Regions from separate parts of the Homo sapiens genome. Here regions 1, 2 and 4 are each linked to region 3. Evidence: fine-mapped expression QTL. A gene starts in region 3. Each other region holds a variant in brackets. All regions are shown on one strand. Distances are between the middles of the regions.

The links. PIP is the estimated chance that this variant, and not a neighbour inherited with it, causes the effect. A credible set is the group of variants that fine-mapping cannot tell apart.
Region 1: its variant is the best candidate, but not a certain one, in a credible set for the expression of ECHDC1 in whole blood (INTERVAL, PIP 0.50).
Region 2: its variant is the best candidate, but not a certain one, in a credible set for the expression of ECHDC1 in whole blood (INTERVAL, PIP 0.55).
Region 4: its variant is the best candidate, but not a certain one, in a credible set for the expression of ECHDC1 in whole blood (INTERVAL, PIP 0.50).

The regions. Positions count from the first base shown.
Region 1 is chr6:127,372,548-127,377,700 of GRCh38, forward strand. No RefSeq gene overlaps it. Among named protein-coding and RNA genes, the nearest start is that of ECHDC1, 32 kb to the left of the region's middle. The variant TG/T (reference allele first, on the strand shown) is at 2,744.
Region 2 is chr6:127,314,018-127,319,170 of GRCh38, forward strand. It overlaps ECHDC1 (ethylmalonyl-CoA decarboxylase 1), which reads right to left. Exons shown (of 6, transcript NM_001002030.2): 4 at 2,433-2,485; 5 at 799-879. LOC105377994 (a long non-coding RNA gene) reads left to right here and starts at 2,968. Exons shown (of 4, transcript XR_001744334.2): 1 at 2,968-5,153. It also overlaps the pseudogene RNA5SP217. The variant A/T (reference allele first, on the strand shown) is at 3,186.
Region 3 is chr6:127,341,609-127,346,761 of GRCh38, forward strand. ECHDC1 (ethylmalonyl-CoA decarboxylase 1) reads right to left here and starts at 2,001. Exons shown (of 6, transcript NM_001002030.2): 1 at 1,728-2,001. LOC105377994 (a long non-coding RNA gene) reads left to right here. Exons shown (of 4, transcript XR_001744334.2): 4 at 1-51. RefSeq lists enhancers at 1,286-2,159, 3,034-3,907.
Region 4 is chr6:127,366,394-127,371,546 of GRCh38, forward strand. No RefSeq gene overlaps it. Among named protein-coding and RNA genes, the nearest start is that of ECHDC1, 25 kb to the left of the region's middle. The variant T/C (reference allele first, on the strand shown) is at 2,802.

The DNA of each region.
Region 1 (5,153 bases), 31 kb after region 3:
GGTTTCACCATGTTGGCCAGGATGGTCTCTGTCTCCTGGCTTTGTGATCCACCCACCTTGGCCTCCCAAAGTGCTGGGATTACAGGCATCAGCCACCATGCCCAGCCTTATTGAGTTATTTAATTTACTTACATTTAGTGTTATTATTGGTAAAACAGATTTAATTCTTCCACTTTTTGTTTTCTATGTCTCATGTCTTTTAGTTCCTTTGTTGTTTGCTTTTGTATTAATAAATATTGTCTAGTGTTATACTTTTTATTTCTTTAACAATTTTTTTAAGTTTTTTGTTTTTTCGTGGTTGCTCTAAGACTTGTCACATGCATCTTAACTTATCAGAACCTACTACAGAGTTTTACTGACAAGTCCAGTAAGATATGGAAATTTACCCCTGCATAGTTTTTCTTTTTCTGCCTTTTGCTGCAGTTATCATTACATATATTGCATTTAAGCATGTTACAAATGCAGCAATACATTGTTATAAGTATTAATTTATATAATTGTATGTCTTTTAAAGAATCAGAGAGCAGAAGAGAGCAAATGCTTATAGTTTTTGTCGTATTAACCATCTTATTTAGCATTTCTTCTCTTTGTTTATCTTGTAGATTTGGGTTATCATCTGGTATCACATCCTTACTCCAATACTGCTTTGCTCACACCCATATTCTTTGTAATATTATTAGTTTATATGTGTTATAGGCCTAACAATGAAATTATAAGCATACTGTTTTATTCATTTGTTTTGTAGATCAATTAAGAGAAGAATTAATATGCATTTATACTATCTTTACTACTACATAATTACCTTTAACCATGCTCTTTTTCTCTATTTTGCTTCCTTTTTTTTTCCTTTTTTTTTTTTTTTTTTTTTTAGATGGAGTCTTGCTCTGTCACCCAGGCTGAAGTCAGTGGCATGATCTTGGCTCACTGCAACCTTTGCCTCCCGGGTTCAAGCGATTATGCTGCCTCAGCCTCCCAAGTAGCTGGGACTACCGGCACATGCCGTCATGCCCGGCTAAATTTTGTATTTTTAGTAGAGACAGGGTTTCACCATATTGGCCAGGCTGGTCTCGAACTACCGACCTCGTGATCTGCCCGCCTCAGTCTCCCAAGTGCTGAGATTACAGGCATGAGCTACTGTGCCTGGCCTCTATTTTGCTTCTTATAAAATATGGTTTGAGGCCACTTGCTTTCATCCTGAGGAAGTTCCCTTAGTGAACCCCCTTTGCAAAAATTATATCAGCGGCAAAATTAGACAGTGAAAAAGACCTGATCTAGCCCACCCGTCCTCTTGCCTTTGCTTTCAAGCTGCCTCAATCATTCCTGGGCTTCGTCTGAGCTAACTTAGTCTGAACTAACTTTGGAAGGTTGTTTGTTTGTGTTGTTTTGTTTTTGAGACCATGCCCAGTTAATTTTTGTATTTTCAGTAGAGACGGGGTTTCACCATCTTGGCCAGGGTGGTCTTGAACTCCTGACCTCATGATCCACCCGCCTCGGCCTCCCAAAGTGCTAGGATTACAGCTGTGAGCCATCGTGCCTGGCCAGAAGATTGTTTAAATAACAGACCTTCCCCCAAAATCATCTGCTTTTATAAAGTTAATGGAAGGCCATCAGGCTAGGGGGCAGAGAGGAGACTGATTCTGCTAAGGTGTAGACATAGATTGCCAACTATTCCTGCAGATAATACTACTATTGCCGATTGGCCTTTTGAGATATCTTTTCAGTTTTTTTTTCACGTCTAACACTACCTGGACCCTCCAACCCTGCTCCTGTGGCCCCACCCAGAATTTATTCAGTACAAGAGGACAGCTTTGACCCCCTTTGATTTCATCTCCACCCCAACCAATCAGCACCAAGCCTAGCGACCTCCACCCCTTCACCCAAACTGCCTATGCAAAACCCCTAATTTAGAAGCTTTAGGGAGAATTATTGCAGTACTAACTCCATCTTCTGTGTGGTGTGGCTGGCCTGATGTCTAATTAAACTCTTTCTTTACTGCAATGCCATGGTCTGTCTTTGTGCAGGAGGCAGGAGGAACCCTTTGGGCAGTTACATTAGTATTTCTTATAAGATAGGATCACTAACAATTCTGTCAGTTTTTGTTTGTCTGGGATTGTCCTTGTTTCATCTTCGTTGTGCCGCTTTTAAGATGTTCTTTTTGGGCCAGGCGCAGTGGCTCACGCCTGTAATCCCAGCACTTTGGGAGGATGAGGTGGGTGGATCACAAGGTCAGGAGTTCAAGACCAGCCTGTCCAACATAGTGAAACCCCGTCTCTACTAAAAATACAAAAAATTAGCTGGGCGTGGTGGTGGGCACCTGTAATCCCAGCTACTTGGGAGGCTGAGGCAGGAGAATCCCTTGAACCCGGGAGGTGGAGGTTGGAGTGAGCCGAGATTGCGCCATTGCACTCCAGCCCAGGCGACAGCACAAGACTCCATCTCAAAAAATAAATAAATAAATAAATAAATAAAAATAAGTTCTTTTTGTCTTTGACTTTCAACCCTTTAACTATGATGTTTCTATGTATAGCGCTCTGCTTTTCCTACTTGGAGCTTGTTAACCCTCTTGGATATATATATATTGTTTTTCCTCAAATTTGGGAAATTTTTAGTTATTATTTCTTTGAATAGTTTTTTTCTACTCTTCTGGTAATCCTATTATATGTATGTTGGTGAGTTTCTTAGTGTCACACATTCCTCTGGGACTCTTTTTATTTTTCTTTATTCTTTTTTTCTTTCTGCTTTT[TG/T]GGTATTATTCTCTATTAGCCTGTCTTCATGCTTCAGGTTTGCTCATTTCTTCTTCTGCCAGTTCAAATCTGTAGTTGAGCCCTATAGTAATTTTTAAATTTTGATTCCAGTCAGTACTTTCAACCTTTCAACTTCAGGATTTCTATTTGGTCTTTTTTTTTTTTTTCTTGAGATGGAGTTTTGCTCTTGTTGCCCAGGCTGGAGTACAATGGTGTGATCTCGGCTCACTGCAAACTCCGCCTCCCAGGTTCAAGCAATTCTTCTGCCCCAGCCTCCCAAGCAGCTGGGATTACAGGCATGCGCCACCATGCCGGGCTAATTTTATATTTTTAGTAGAGACTGAGTTACTCTGTGTTGGTCTGGCTGGTCTCGAACTCTTGACCTCAGGTGATCTGCCCACCTGGGCCTCTGAAAGTGCTGAGATTACAGGCATGAGCCACTGTGTCTGGCCTGGTCCTTTTTTTTTTTTTTTTTTTTTTAGATAATTTATTTTTAATATATTCTCTCTTTAATGAGATATTACCATCATACATTTCTTTTCTTTTTTTTTTTTTTTGAAATGGAGTCTTGCTCTGTCGCACAGGCTGGAGTGCAGTGGCACAATCTCGGCTCACTGCAAGCTCTGCCTCCTAGGTTCATGCCATTCTCCTGCCTCAGCCCAAGTAACTGGGACTACAGGCACTCGCCACCATGCCTGACTAATTTTTTTTTGTATTTTTAGTAGAGACAGGGTTTCGCCGTGTTAGCCAGGATGGTCTCGATCTCCTGACCTCATGATCCGACTGCCTCAGCCTCCCAAAGTCCTGGGATTACAGGCGTGAGCCACCAGGCCCGGCCCTGTGTGTGTGTGTCACACATTTTTGTTGCTTTTCATGTCTCTTTTTTTTCTTTCTGAAAACTAGACACTTAAATAATATATTGTAGCAATTGTGGATATAATTGTCCCTCATTTCATGGTGCTTGTTATTATTTGCCTGTTTTTTCATTTAGCTTCTGATGGCACTATTTTACTGGGAAGCCTTTGATGTTGCTCCTTAGAGGGCACAACCTTGGGCATGGGAACATTCAGCTGAGATGAGAGCAGCTTTAGCAGTGCTCTCTTTGACTCTTTCCTTCATCACACCCAGCTGTTAGCCTTCTTTAATTCCTGGCTGATTGCCTTTTTAAATTTAAGATGCCCTTGGGCTAATTTTTGTATTTTTAGTAGAGACAGGGTTTCACCATGTTGGCCAGGCTGGTCTCGAACTCCTGATCTCAGGTGATCTGCCTAACTCGGCCTCCCAAAGTGCTGGGATTACAGGCCTGAGCCACAGTGCCCGACCTCCTTTACTTTCTTAATAAACTTGTTTTCACTTTACTTTATGGACTCACCTTGAATTCTTTCTTGCGTGATATCCAAGAACCCTCTCTTGGGGTCTGGATCAGGAAGGCTTTCCTGTAGCAAAGGCAGTGTCACAAAACAAGCTACTGCAATGGGCAAATGGAGCCTAATCCCATGGTGAAGCTCTGGAACGCCATGGAACACATGTGTAAAAGGCTGATTCTATTGAGGGCATGATGACAGCTGTGTTGTGACCCCATACAAGTGAGTCACTGGTTCAGGTCTGTTCCTGGAGACCATCAATTTGTGGGTACTTCTGGCTTGCCATGTTCTCCAGCCAAGTCTGAGGGCAGCTCTCTGATGCAAATGCAGTAACTAGCTGTCAGAAAACCTGCTGGCTTGCACGGAAGGTATGGTTCTGGACAGTGTGTCAACAGTGCCTGCTACACTGGGGAATTTTTCAAACAAACCAGCCCATGTCCTCCTCTTCCCCTCACTCACTAATGACCCTGAGTCCTGATCACCATTATGTACAGCAGAACAAAGAAGAGGTGTCAGTAGACATATTTTCTTCATAAAGATGCCCCAATGATGAATAGCCTATGTTTATTGGTTATGACCGTAGAAATGAAATGGAAAAGCTTCCACTGGGCCTGAAAGAGGCCACAGTGGGACTGGGAGACTGGAGAGGAGAGAAAAATCCTTTCTAAGCATTCTTGGAGGAATATGGTCATGGGTCAATAAGAAATGAATTGAAAGATTGTTGGAATAGAGGTAAAAATGGCAGAAATTCTTCTAGTCCAATCAGCACTTTTTGTCTTGTGACATAAAGTAACATTAGGCATTCTAAGAAAAAGAAGTGAAGATTGTGAGTATGAGAATTAAGATTTATGAAGTGATTTTGTAAGTTGGTGTAAGGTTAAACAGTCTAGAGATTCAAAGGTGCTGGAATGGAGGGAAGCACTCCAATGTACAAGCATGGAATTAGGCCAAATAGGTAGAAGAAGCCACAAAGGGCCTAATATAAGAATAAGAATATAGAAGGGATAAGAGATCATCTGATGACAATGATAATGGCCATGAATGT
Region 2 (5,153 bases), 28 kb before region 3:
AGGTCTACTAGACGTCAGTGCTCAGGCTCTTTACTGTTTTGCCATTTTACCTCTGATTGTGCTATATTTACTACCTTTTGCATTATAAAGAGGCTCCAGTATGTGAACCTGTACAGATAACTCACAGAGCATTGTATTGGTCTCCTTATAGCTAGCTGTGTTAGTAGGCCTTGGGAATGGTACTGAGAAAGCAGTTTAAACCATGTCTAAAGCATTAGATTTTATAAAATGTCATTTCTATATAATATAGCTATCAAATACTGAGAATAATTATTGGGAGTGAAGAGCTATTGGTCCCAAAGAACTTTCTCTATTTTTAGTCCCTAATCTTCCTGAAAGTCCCACAAAGTTGCTATAAATCACAGCAAAAAGAAGACAAAGGGATCTCAGAAAATCTCTTTTTATTGGTGAGAAGACAGCTACAGCAGTCTCTCTTTCTGCATTCTATTTTTCTTTTTTAATGTTGCTTACCTTTGTTTGTATAATTCTTTTGGATTTTTAAGTTTCATATATTTCCTTAGCTTTCCTTCCAGGAGTTTTGCTAATATGGATTTGCTCTATTCAAAATCTCAAAACCATGTGTTTTGTTAATTTTTTGAAAATGCATAGTAATGAAGTGATCATGAAATTTTATTAGATTAAAATTATCTACTTTAATGACTGACAAAAAGAAAACATTCAGAAAAGAAAATAGGTTTATCCTATTTAAGAATATATAAAATATTGATATTAAGGCAAAAATGAATTTGAGCAAGTTAATTATATTTGTGCAAGAAATTAATGAAATTTTCATCCTACCTGAAATCACATGCTGTAGTAAATTCTGCTCCTCCACCCAATGCCCAACCTTGAACCAGCGCAACACTTATTAAAGGAAGTCTGTATATTGAAGAAAAAACTGATGTTACTATTTTTAATTTCAATATTCATTTACAAATGTTATTTTTTAAAAAATCTTAAAATGCAGTGGAAACAAAATTATTGCACTGTCTTCATAAAAACAAACACACATCAAAGGATAGCAGAAGCTTGAACCTTTACATCATGAGAAGAAAAACAGTGTAATACTAAACATACAATAGTTCACAATAAATGCCACATAAGTTCATTAAAATACCTCCCTGAATCATTATATATTTTTAAGCTATAGCCATATTGTAACTTACTCCCAAATAAATGGATGCTTTTGTCTAATTTACAGCTCCTGGAACTTCTCAGCAGCTGGCTCTTCAGAATAATTCCATGTGATATTATCTTTGTCCATTTTTGTTGGTATCAGGTTAAAAGTTGGAAAATCAAGGCTATTTCCAAAGGTTGGAAATGTGTTACAGAAGATAGGGCTCCAAAACTGTGTTATGAAGTTTCCTTCAAAAATCTACTCATTGTTGCCTGAAATAATCCACAGACTAATCCTATATAAAGGCATGATTTTGCAGTAAAAATAAATCTTTTACCTTTCCTGTTTGCAAAGACCCACTTTGCAGGGGTGTGTGAATACAAGGTAAATCTAAAATGTTTTCCAAGATGGAATTTTTGTAGGTTCTGACCTACAATGCAAAGGTGCAGGTCTAAAGTAATTGAAAATTTCCTAATATACACTGCTCCCATGTAGAAAGGATTATTTAAAAAAATAATAACTTCAGATTTATCTATGAAAAAGTCAAATGCAATAGGAAAAGGAGGTGAATAGGGTTTAAACAATGAAGATACTATTTTAGAATAGTAATGTTATGATTCTATTACTCTCTCTAGACTCTCAGATACAATAGGTACCAAAAATACAGTAATGTCCAATTAATAACCTTGCTTAAATAAGAATTTCCTTACTTTTCATAATTTTAAATTTGTCTACATTCGGAATGTGAAAGTAGAAAGCTAATCAACCAAAACATGTCAGTTTGTAACCTCAAACATACCTTGATAGGCCAAGAAGAATTTTTCCTCTTTGCTTCTTTACCTAGGTGCAAAGTCAATTCATATTCCTCAGAAAGCTGTAAAAACTTTCCAATCCATAGTTCTTTTTCTCATCTCCTCTGGATACAGACCACTTCACCACACATTCTACTAATTTGGAATATTAGGTAAACTTTATGTGTCATGTCTTGATCAGTGTCTTTATTATTCTGCTCTAATACCAGTATTTAACTTTCCCAGTATCTATTCCTAAATACAGCTAGTTATATAAGCTCTTTAGGGGATATGTCTTAAATTTTTCTTATCTTTCATTTCTCTTATTTTTAAAATACATATGTATATACTTCATTAACATGTAATTAAATGATTATCCTCTACGGCACAAAAAAATAGTACATCATTAGAATAGATGTAATTTGAAAATTAGCTATTATTTCTTAACTAGTACAAATAATGGAATAGCAAAAAGCTATTTTTGGTCTTTTAGAAATCATATTTTAAAAAGAAGGCTGCATTACCTCATAAATCTTGTTAAGGTGTTTTGCATGAACATGCATACGGCCATTCCATCCTTTAAATAAAAATAAGCAGAAACACAAAGGTATAATGCAAATATATTACATTAAATTTTTTAAATTAAGGTTTTAGAAAGTAATGAAGCCAAAAATATGTCTTTTTTAAACAATGACATTTCCATTTAAAACTCTTTGATGTTGTCTGAAATGCAAATAATGCTGTATTTGACTGTTGATATCCTAGGGCTCCTTGAGCTCAGCTTTGCATGAGGTATTAGCAAAGATGTAGGGATAAGAGACAGATCACATACCCTAGATCACTATGGAGTTCTACTCAGGGTAATGACAGGGGAAAGGCATAAGATATACCCATCTGTTATCCTTAAGATGATAAACATATAAGAGAAGAAGGGAAAGAAGGGAAAAGTTATGTTAAGCTTTGATTTTTAAAAAAATATTTCTAAGGCTTTATCTTGGTATTGCCACAACTTATAATTTTCACAAACAAATTTCCTAAGAGTAGTCCAAACTCATTGCCTTGTCTTTTTTTTAGCTCACATACTTTCTTCAATCCAGTGTAATCTGGCCCTCTGCCTTATCCCAAAATCTCTCCTCAAAAGCTTTTAATAATCTCCTACTTGTCAAATTAAATGACTTTTCCTTATTCACCTTTTCTCTCTCCATAACACGTAGTATCTTTCTTTAATCAGTTTCTTCATTCTCATATTTGCTCTCACTTTCTAGCAACATTTACAC[A/T]CCTGGTTCTCTTATTTCTTTGTTTGTTCTTTTCCAGTCTTCTTCCTTGGCTCTTCTTATCCAGCTAATCCCCTAAATCCATGCAGTTTCAAAATTCTAATCCATGATTTTCTCTGTTCTTTATTTATAATTTCTTTTTTTTGGAAGTCTCATCTACTTCCATATAAAGTGCTAAAATCTACTAGACATTTTCACATTCTGATAGCACCTCAAACTCAGCACGGCAAAACCAACTGAAAGTAAAAGAACTGACTTTGAATCCTAGTGCTGCCACTTAATAACAACATGAAATTGAGCAAGTCATGACTACGTAATTCAGTTTCCTCATTCATAAGAAATGAGAAATTAAAAAAAATTGCACTATTTGACTTAAAGGATGTTTAGAAAGATGAAAATATACCTAGAAACTCTATAAAAGATTGCATAAGTGTTCTGTGTTAGTGGAAAAAGTTAGTGTAAGAGTTCTGAGCTAGCGGTCAATAAGGCTCAGATTTTTGGTACTATGTTTGACTTTCCCGTTTCACAATTCTCCCACACTCAGTTAGTTACCAAGTACTTCCCCTCGGATCTACCTTAGAAATATTTCAAATATCAATCCCTTCTTTTATATTTTTGCTGCTGCTGCATTAGTTCATACCTGTGTTACTCAAGCCTTGATTAGTACAGTAAGATGGCTTTGCTTTCTCCCACCCAAGGACTAATCAGACCCAACACTGATTAACTTCTGAGATCGGCAAGATTGGGTGCATTCAGGGTGGTATGGCTGGAGACAACAGCTTTGCTTCCTAACTGATTTCTGTATTTAATTTCTTTTTCCTCTTAAATATAATCTTCCATCCTGCTACCTGATAAACCTTCCTGTAGGATGATGATGTCTTATAGAATAAAACCTAAATTTCTTGGCAAGGCCACTTGATCCCAAACTATCTTATCAACTTTATTGATTACCATACCCCTCCTCCAAGCATCCTAATTTCACCACACAAACTATTTGCCATCCCTCTAACACCTTACACTTATTGTGGCTCCTGTGTCTTTGCTTTTATCATTCCTACTAGTTGTAATAGGCTGTCCTTCTCTCTACCTATTTCAAGGAATGCCCAGATCATATAATATTTTTCCATCAAGATTTTCTAAATCTCACAATAACAATTTTCTCTTTTGTGTTTCAACAGTATTTTTATTTTTATGCCTTAATTATAGTACTTATAAATTGTGTTGTATGAATATGTGTTTAGATGCATTATCAGACACATCATCTCTACAAGATGGGGACTAGAGAACCTAAGAAGTTCTCAATAATTTTGCCAGAGATACAGAAATACAACTATCAAAGTACAGGTATTATACAAAGTGCTTGAACAAACTCAGAAGAGTGTCAAAGAAGAAATTATTCATTTCAATTGGGATGGGGGTAGTTAGACAGGCTTTAGAGAGGAGAAGGGAAGGTGGCATTTGCTAGGTCTAGACAGTAAGTCCCTTGATGGTGACAGTATGCCTTCCCCCTCCTCAGACGCTAGTAAAATGTTTTGCACATAGTGTTTGTTGAACTTAAAAAAATTAGATGAATTTTAGATGGAGAACTATGTTGATTTATAAAACAAATGCAGTCAAGAAAAAGTAAAAGCCAATGTGGAAGGAATTTCCTAATCCAAAGCTGTTATCAGGAAGATCAGTGTATCTCACGAAGTGATGAGAAAATTAACACAGGCACGAGGAGCTAAAAAGCTTTCAAAGTAAACTGGTTTATTCTCTGCTAAAAACCTTTCCAATAAAATCTGTTCTATTACCTATATCAAGTAATTTTAATATGCATATTTGCTCTTGCTACATTTAGATTACATAAAATTCCAATGAAGTATCTAGAATTGGTAGAAATAAAGGTGAAGCAAATTATTAGCCTGTGTACTATTATAATTTTCATTCAAAAGACAAAAGGCACGCTAAAAATGTCTATTAGAAGCAGTA
Region 3 (5,153 bases):
GTGGAGCTGAACAAGCTCACTACCAAGCCACTGAAAAGAGGAAAGAAAGTCCATCTGAGATCAAAGGTCGCACTTCCCATTTTTTTCAAGTTCTGCAAAGGTGATCTGTTTCCCTTTAGTGCACAGGAAATAAGTGAGATGTTCTCTAAAAGCCTTTACCTGTTTCACCTTATACTGTAATCACTAAATCCAGAAGACTAACGCAAACTCATACTTAAAAAGAAAACAATTAGCCTAGAGCACGTAATAGAAATCAGAAGCATTTGATTTCAGACTGTCTGTATATCGCCTGTTTGTAAAAGTTCTGATTCGGTTGTAGGCTGTCATAACATAAACTACCTTTCAAGGTTCATTACATGCCACCCACAACTCTCTCCCTCACACAGCCAAAATGCACAACTTTCAGTTCCTGAAATCCTTTTGATTTTTTCGCCATCTCAAGCTTTCGCATATGCGATCTACCTGTTACATTTTTGTCTTCCTCAGAGTAACTTCAAATCATCTCCTCTAACATAGGACTACATAAAGTCCCCTTATTGTCTGCTCTCAGAACATCTGTATCTCTCATCACCACTCTCACTCACTCTTTGCTGTAATTAGTTTTTTAACCAGTTCTTCCCATTAGTCTTAGCTGCAAGAGGGCATTTGCAGTGCCTAAAGATAATATTCTTAAGACTAAACAGGGGCTTAAGAATCTGGCCACAAATCAACTCTCCAACTACCCTGTTTATAATCCTCACAACTCACCCTGTTTCAATGCCATGCTTCTTCACAGGCTGGCTTCCCTTCCTGGAATGTTAATCATTGCAGGAATCCCAGCTGATTATACAGTCGCCTTTCAGGCCAGAACCCAATAAAAAATCAAGAAAGGATCGCCCGTTCTATTACTGCGCTGCTCCCTCCCCTCGTAGATTTCACAAATATACTTCTCACCACAAGCTTGTCTGTTCCAAGAGAATGCTAGCTCTTCTAAAGAAGGAGCCCTTTGTTTTCCTTGCCCTTGTCCAGTTCCTCTGCATACCTCTAGCACCTAGAGCAACAACTGCTATACAGGAGCCCAGATGTGGAACAGAGCAAAGAACTGAGTGTTGATTTAATGTTGCCTGAAGTCCTTAACAGCACCTTCAACCTAAACTTAACTGTGTTTTTAATCCCCTACACGTGTAATCCCTGTATGTGTGCGCAGCGTTAAAAGGATTATTGTAGCTCAAAAATTCTCCAATGAAAGAACCTCTACCAGAAAGGAGTTGCTCATCTTTCGTTCTTGAAAAGTTGGCTGCACGATACAAGTAAGAAAAGTTTTAGTTAGGCAAGACAACTTATACATAAAAGACAATTATAGGGAACATTACCTAACTTAGCACAGGGCCTCGAATGTATTCCGAAATTAAATCAGCATGTAGAAAGCAAGCCTCCTCATGCTTTTTAAAGTGTAATCTCGCGACCTCGCGGCGCGCTCTGGGAAGACCGATTCATCTCTTCCCCTCGCCCTCTTTCCCCGGCCGGCGCACAGCCGGCCCGTGGCGCTCGGCACCGCGTCTCCACGTCCAGCGCGGGGCAGGCCTGCGCGGCGCTTGCAAGGGACAAGCCGCGGAGCCGGGGAGGCTCGCCGTCTGGGACACGTTTGGAGAAGCGAGCGGTACAGTCCATTCCACGGCGACATTTTAGGATTCTCCCACTGACAACACTAAACTGAAGCGCTAAGACCAACCCTTACGACCACTTACCGTCGCAGGCCACGGTGGTGACTTCCTTTTCCGCTCCCCTACACACGCTTTTCCGTTTTGCGTGCCTTTGTTTCCGCTCCCCCCGGGACCATCGTGCGCCCCTGTCCTCCGTTCTTGTAGGTCCTCTCCTCTTCTCCGCGTCTTCTCTTTTACTATCCCACGCTCTCCTTTCCTTTCTCCGGGAACTTTATCCCGTTCCCCTGCCGGTTCCCGTGACCCCGGAAATCCCGCTCCTGCCGCGAGGCGCCCTCCGCTTCGCGCTCCCTCGTGTCACGAGGGAGCCAGGGTGGGCGGTCTCCTATTGTACTTGGCTTTTGAATTTTCGCTTTTGCAGCACAAAGGTAGGGCTGGGAAAGGAGGCTGCCGAACCGTGCTTGTTTTCGCTCAGATAAACGTGAGAAAAAGTGGAGGTGAGGAAGCCAGTGTAGGCAAATAGCGAGAGGGGAGAAGACAGAAAGGTACCGAAGGTCGACCTTTTTTAGGTATCTTATCCAAGTTATTGAGGGGAATGGGTATTTAGCCAGTTTTTTGTTTGTTTGTTTTTATCCGAATATCCAGTGTGTGTCTTGAATGTGTGAATGTGACGTGTTTATAAAGCTCAGTAAGCTTAAAATTCCGTGCCAATACATTTTGTATGCCGCAGACAGGAAGTGCTTTGGAAGACCCTTGAAAGGGGAGGTGATTTTACACCAATATTGAGATCATTTTGTCAGAGTCGTGGGACTAAAGGTAGACCTTAGGTAGTCGATGTCAAAGATAAGCGCAGCTGGACGTTAAAGCGGTGAAAACATTCAGTTAACTACTGACAGGAAAGAGCTGAGCTCTATTTCGATTCGTGCAGAGATCATCTGGGCATTTTTAAAGGGACGTTTTAAAAGGAGAAAGGGGATATGCGGGCGCTCAGTAGAGAAAGTGAACCTACAGAGTTGTTAGTGTAAATGTGATTAGGCCAGCTGTGTGTTTGTGTGTGCGCGCGTTTTAACAGTTACCGCAGGATTCTATCCTCCTACGGAGGATTTTATCCTTCTCGATTACATTTCAAAGGAATGACTCTCTGGTCCTTGAGAGAGAACTTCTGAGTGGCAAGAAATAAGTCTTTACAATTGCAAGCCCTTTAGTAAACGTTCTAAGAAAGGGATGTCAGAGACCTATCATCAGTTGTGTGCTGGTTACATCACGTAGTTAAGCTTTCTGAGGCAGTCGCCCTGGGCACAGGGCCTTATGCTGCTAAAGCTTGCTAGAGTTTGGTCAAGTCTCTGAACGCAGGGGTTTAGATGGGATGGTCATGTTCCTGGAGTTCTGCAGTGGTCATAGGTATGATTTGAATAAGTACAGGGAATATTCTAGTCGGAGGAACAGAATGTGCCAACGCGCCGAACAGGGAGGATAGTTTTACGATACGGAGATGTGTATGATAGGGAATAAGTGGGAGCCCAGTTTGGACTAATTGGAAGAAGTCATTATTAGAAGTACTGTATTTAATTCTAGTTTGTTATAAAATGAGACTCCAAGATCACTGAGCCATTTCACTGAGACTCCAAGATCACCCCAATGCTAGGCTAATCTCCATGGCGCCTAGATCTATGCCCACTCCATTCCCCATGTTGGTCCCCATAGTTTCAGGCACCAGGCTCCAACACCAGGTTGGGCCCTACAGCCCCAGTCTCCAGGTTGGCACCAGTGGATATAGGCTTTAGGTCCACTGACTGCTGGTCCCTACAGCCCCAGGTTCCAGTGAACCCAGGTTCCAGGCCTGCTCCAACAAACCCAAGGTCCAGGTCTACCCCAGTAGACCCTGGCACCAGAACTACCCCAGAGGGCCTAGCCTACAGGCTACCACCCACAAACCCAGCCTCCATGATGGCCTCTGAAGAATCAGGCTTTAGGTCTTCCCCAGCACCAGACTAGACTGCTAGACTGATGTTCCACTTTTGTCCCCATGGACCCAGGCACCAGGCCCATCTGAGAGGTTTCTTCAGTTTTATTTTTCAGTAATAACTTTCATTCTTCTTTCTCAGTGATAACTGTAGTACTCAGTGGGCTTTCTATTTCTGGCTCCCATTTTCCATCTTTCTTTTTAACACTTTGGGAAAATATCCAAGTTAAACTCTATATAGTGGGGTAGGTGGACAATGAAAGATAAGTAAATACATAATATGTATAATCAACGGAGTGAAAAGACAGCCTGCAGAATGGGAGAAAATATTTGCAAACTATATATCTGACAAAGGGTTAATATCCAGAGTATATGAAGAAGTCAACTCAATAGCCAAAAAAAAAAAAAAAAAAATCCAATTTAAAAATGAGCAAAAGGCCTGAATGGACATTTCTCAAAAGAAAACATGATGATGACTAACAAATATATGAAAAAATGCTCAGCCAGGCACAGTGACTCACACCTGTAATCCCACACCTTGGGAGGCCAAGCAGGTGGATTGCTTGAGCCCAGAAGTTCAAGACCAGCCATGGGCAACATGGCAGAACCCTGTCTCTACAAAAAATCACAATTGGCTGGGCAATGTGGCATACACCTATAGTCCTAGCTACTCAGGAGCCTGAGGTGGGAGGATCACTGGAGCCCAGGAGCTTGAGGCTGCAGTGAGCCATGATCACACCACTGCATTCCAGCCAGGGTGACAGAGCAAGACTCTCAAAAACAAATACATACATTTTTAAAAAATTAAAAATAAATAAAAATAATCATAGGGGAAATGCAAATCAAAACCACAATGAGATATCACCTCATACCTGTTAGAATGGCTATTATCAAAAAGACAAAAAATAACATGCCCATGCATATGTGGAGAGAAATACTTATACACTGTTGGTAAGAATGTAAATTACTGGCCAGATGCAGTGGCTCACGCCTGTAATCCCAGCACTTTGGGAGGCTGAGGTGGGCGGATCCCGAGGTCAGGAGGTCAAGACCATCCTGGCCCACATGCTGAAACCCCTTATCTACTAAAAATACAAAAAAATTAGCCAGGCATGGCAGCACATGCCTGTAGTCCCAGCTAAACCTGGGAGGCAGAGGCTGCAGTGAGCCGAGATCACACCACTGCACTCCAGCCTGGGTGACACAGCGAGACTCCGTCTCAAAAAAATAATAAATAAACAAAAGAATTTGAATTACTCTAGCCATTATAGAAAACAGTATAGAGGTTCCTCAAAAAATTAAAAACAAAACTGCCATATGATCCCACAATCCCACGCCTGGGTATATATCTGAAGGAAGTAAAATCAGTATGTTGCAGAGATATCTGCACTCTCATGTTTATTGCAGCACTGTTCATAAGAGCCGAGATATGGAATCAACCTAAGTGTCCATCAGTGGATGAGCGGATAAAGAAAATGTGGTATATACATACAATGGAATACTATTCAGCCATTAAAAGGAATGAAATCCTGTCATTTGTGGCAACATAG
Region 4 (5,153 bases), 25 kb after region 3:
GTCTCACCATCCAGGTCTCACTGTCTCCACCAATCGATCACTGCCATTTCCACCAATCACTGCCGTCTCCACTGTCTTCCTCCCTTCGCTGGTCACCAGATGATGCAAGACAGGCAAGCCCCAAAATTCAGTCTTAGCCCGGGAGGGTTCTTGGCTTAGCCCAGGAAATAATTCAAGGGTGAGTCAGTGGTATTAAACAGCAACTTTTATTAAAGTGGCAGCATACAGCAGCAGCAGAAGTACTGCTCCTTGCAGAGCAGGGCTACTCCATACTCCCAGAATAACAGCTCAGAGGCAGTTTTGCAGTCATATTTATACCCACTGTTAATTATATTAAAATTAAGGGGTGGTTTATGCAGAAATTTATACCATGAGAGAGGTAACTTCTGGGTTGTCAGGTCATTGCTATGGAAAGGAATGTTAACTTGTTGCCATGGCAATGGTAAACTGACATGGCACATTAGTGGGCATGTCTTATGGGGAGGTGCTTCTGCCCCAGACCTGTTTTAGCTAGTACTCAATTTGGTCCAATGTCTGAGCCCTGTGTTGAGTCCTGCCTCCTAGCTCATTTTTAAGGTTCATTTAAGCCATAGCATGTATCAGTACTTCATTCCTTCTAATTGGCAAATAATATCCCATTTGTGGCTAAATCATATTTTATTTATCCATTTATCAACTGATAGGTATTTGCACTGTTCCACTTTTTAGCTGTTACAAATAAAGTGCTCCTATCAGCATTTGTGGATAAGTTTTTGTGTGGACATAAGCTTTCATATCTTTTGGGTACAAACCTAAGAGTGGAATTGCTGAGTCATATGGTAACTCTATATTTAACCTTTTGAGGGACTACCAAACAGTTTTGCAAAGTGGCTGTACCATTTTACATTTCCACCAACAGTGTTTCAATTTGTCCACAACTTCTCCAACACTTGATATTTCAGTCTTTTGTACTATAGCCATGTTAGGGAGTGCGAAGAGGTATCTCATTGTGGTTTTCATTTGTGTTTTCTTTATAGTTAATTGATTTTGGCATCTTTTAATGTATTTATTGGCCATTCGTATATCTTATTTGGAGACATGTTTACTTACATCTTTTGCCTATCTTTTAAATTATGTAATTTATATTTTAATTATTGACTTGTGAAGGTTCTTTTTATATTCTAGATACGAATCTCTTCTCAGATATATGACTGGTAAATATTTTTTTCACATTACATGGTTGTCTTTTTACTTTCTTGCTGGTGTCTTTTGGAACACAAATATTTTACATTATGATTAAGTCCAATTTATCTGTTTTTCTTTTGTTGCTTGAGCTTTTAGTGTCACATCTAAGAAACTGTTACCTACTACAAGGTCATGAAGATTTATTGTTATATTTTCTTCTAACAGTTTTATACCTTTAGCTCTTACATTTAGGACTTCGATTCATTTTGAGTACATGTTTGTATGTGGTATGATGTAGGGGCCTACATTCACTCTTTTGCATGTAGATATCTCACCATCCCAGAACCACTTTAAAAAATTTTTTATTTTTAATAGACACATAATGATAGTACCTATTTATGTGGTAAAATGTGATGTTTTGATACCTGTATACATTGTACAGTGATCAAATAAAGGTAATTAGCATACTCATCACCTCAAATATTTATCATTTATTTTTGGTAGGAACATGCAAAATCCTCTCTTCTTGCTCTTTTGAGATATACAATACTTTTTTGTTGATTATAGTCACCCTACTGTGCTATAGGACACTGGAACTTTTTCCTCCTTTCTAATTGTAACTTAGTACTTGTTGACCATCCTCTCCCCTTTCCCCCTTACCTCTACTCTCCCCAGTTTCTGGTGACCATTGTTCTGTTCACTACTTCTATGAGATTAACATATTTAGATTATGCATATGAGTAAGAACATGTGGTATTTGTCTTTCTGTGCCTGGCTTATTTCACTGAACATAATGTCTCCAAGTTTATCCATGTTGTAACAAATGACAAGATTTCCTTCCTTTTTATGGCTGAATAGTATTCCATTACATTATACCACATTTTCTTTATCCATTCACCCATTGTTGGACACTTAGACTGATTCCATATCTTGGCTATTGTGAATAGCCAATTAATGCAATAAACATGAGAGTTCAGATGTCTCTTCGACATACTGATTTCATTTCCTTCAGATATATAGCCAATAGTGGGATTGTTGGATCATATGATAGTTCTATTTTTAATTTTTCAGGAAGCTCCATACTGTTTCCCATAATGGCTATACTAATTTACATTCCCACCAACAGTGTATTAAGGGTTCTCTTTTCTCCACGTAATTTCTAACACTTGTTATCTGTTGTCTTTTTTATAACAGCCATTCTAACTGGAGTGAGGGGATGTCTCATTGTTTTTATTTGCATTTCTATGGTCATTAGTGACCAGGGTCATTATCCCGGATGATAAGTGATAGGTAGCATTTTTTAATATGTCTGTTGGCCATTTGTATGTCTTCTTTTGGAAAATGCCTGTTAAGGTCTTTCGGCCATTTTTTGAATGAGGTTTATTTTTTGCTTGTTGATTTAAGGTCATTATATATTCTGAATAGTAATGCCTTGTCAATGTATAGTATCAAATATTTTCTCCCATCCTGTAGGTTGCCTCTTCACTCTGCTGATTGTTTTCTTTGCTGTGCAGAAGCTTTTTAGTTTGGCGTATCTCATTTGTCTATGTTTGGTTTTGTTGCCTGTGTTTTGAGGTCTTATCAAAAAAATCCTTGCCTAGTCCAATGTCATGAAGCATTTTCTCTATGTTTTCTTC[T/C]GTAGTTTCATAGTCTTGGGTCTTATATTTAAGTTTTTAATTCATTTTGAGTTGATTTTTGTATGGTGAAAGATAGGGGTACAGTATTCTTCTGCATATGGATATCCAGTTTCCTCAGCACCATTTATTAAAGAGATTGTCCTTTTCCCAGTGTGTGTTCTTGGCACCTTTGTCCAAAATCAGTGGGCTGTAGATGTGTGGATTTATTTCTGGGCTCTGTATTCTGTTCCACTGTTTTTTTAATGCCTGTTTTTCTGCCAATACATGCTGTTTTGGTTACCATAGGCTTGTAATATATTTTGAAGTTAGGCAGTATCATGCCTCCAGCTTTGTTGTTGTGGGGCTTTTTTTGCTCAAGATTAGTTTGGTTATTCAGAGTTTTTTGTCATTCTATATGAATTTCAGGATTTCTTTTCTATTTCTGTGAAGGATATCATTGGAAATTTCACAGAGATTACAGCGAATCTCTACATACTTTGGTATAATATGGACATTTTAACAATATGAATTCTTCCAATCTATGAACATGGCTATCTTTCTATTTATTTGTGTTCTCTTCAATTTCTTTCATCAGTATTCTATAGTTTTTACCTCTCTGGTTAACTTTATTCCTAGGTATCTTATAGATTTTTGTAGCTATTATAAATGGAGTTGTTTTATTTCTTTTTCAGATTGTTCACTATTAAGGTATAAAAATGCTATTGATTTTTGCATATTTACTTTGTACCCTGCAACTTTAGTGAATTCTCTTATTAGTTCTAACAGTTTTTGGTAGAGTCTTTTGGTTTATCTCTACATAAGATCATATTGTCTGCAAACAGACAATTTGACTTCCTCCCTTCCAATTTGGAAGACTTTTTTCTTTTGTGTAATGTCTATGGCTATGACTTCCAATATTATGTTGAATAGAAGTGATGAAAGTGTGCATTCTTGTCTTTCTCCAGATCTTAGAGAAAAAGCTTTTATCTTTTCTCTATTCAGTAGGATGTTAGCTATGGGTTTTTCATATATGGCCTTTATTGCATTGAGCTATGAAACTTCTATACACATAATTTGTTGAGAGGTTATGTTTATCTTGAAGGATGTTGAAGTTTGTTTCTTTAGTCTCTATTTATTTCTGCTCCAATCTTTATTATTATCTTTTTCTTCTGCTTTTTTAGGTTTTAGCTTTTCTTGTTCCATCTGTGCAATGTTAGGTCATTTATTTGAGATCATTCTTCATTTTTGATGTAGGTGTTTATTGCTGTAAAGTTCTATCTTAGAACTGCTTTCGCTGTACCCCATAGATTTTGGTATGTGTGTTGTTTCTATTTTTGTTTGTCTCATAAAATTTTTTAATTTCACTTTTAATTTCTTCATTGACTCATTGGTTATTCAGAGACACATTGTTTGATATCCATGTATTTGTAAAGTTTCCACAGTTCTTCCTATTATTGATTTCTAGTTGTATACTATTTTTACTAGAAAAGATACTCTGTATGATCTATAGCTTCCTAAATTTGTTAAGACATGTTTTGTGGCCTAACATATGACCTACCCTGGAGAATGTTCCATGTAAAGTTGAGAATAATGTATATGCCATGACTTTGGGGGTTAGGATTTCAGCATATAAATCATGGGGAACATAAACATCAAGTCAATTGCAGTAGTATTTCCTTATAATCCTTTTTAGTTCTGTAATGTTGCTAGCAATATTATCTCTTTTATTCCTGCTGTGGTCTGAATGCTTGTGTCTTTCCAAAATTTGTATGTTGAAAACCTGATCACTAACGTAATAGTGTTAGGATGTAAGGCCTTAGGGAGATGATTAGATCATGAGGTCAGGATGGGTTTAGTGCACTTATAAGAAAGGTTCCAGAGAGCTGGTTTCCCATTTTCAGCATATAAGGGCACAGCAAGAAAGTACTATCCATGAACCAGAAAATAGGTCCTCACCAAACACTAAATCTGCCTGTCTTGATATTAGGTTTCCTTGTCTCCAAAACTGTGAGGAATACATTTCTGTTGTTTTTAAGATATGCAGTCTATGGTAGTTTTTTAGAGCAACCCAAACAAACTAAGACAATTCTGAATTTTGATAACTTGAGTTTTCTCTCTTTTTCTTTTGGTCAGTTTAGATAAAGTTTTGTCAATTTTGTTGATCTTTTCAAAAAGCTACATTTGGGTTTCATTAATTTTCATTAATTGTCTATTTAATTAATTTCTGATTCAATCTTTTTTTCTTCTGCTTGCTTTAAATTTACTTTTTAATATCTGAAGGTGATTATGAATTTCAAATCTTTCTTAATTTTCAAATATAGATGTTTATAGGCATAAATTTGCCTCCAAACACTGCTTTACCTGCTCTTCATA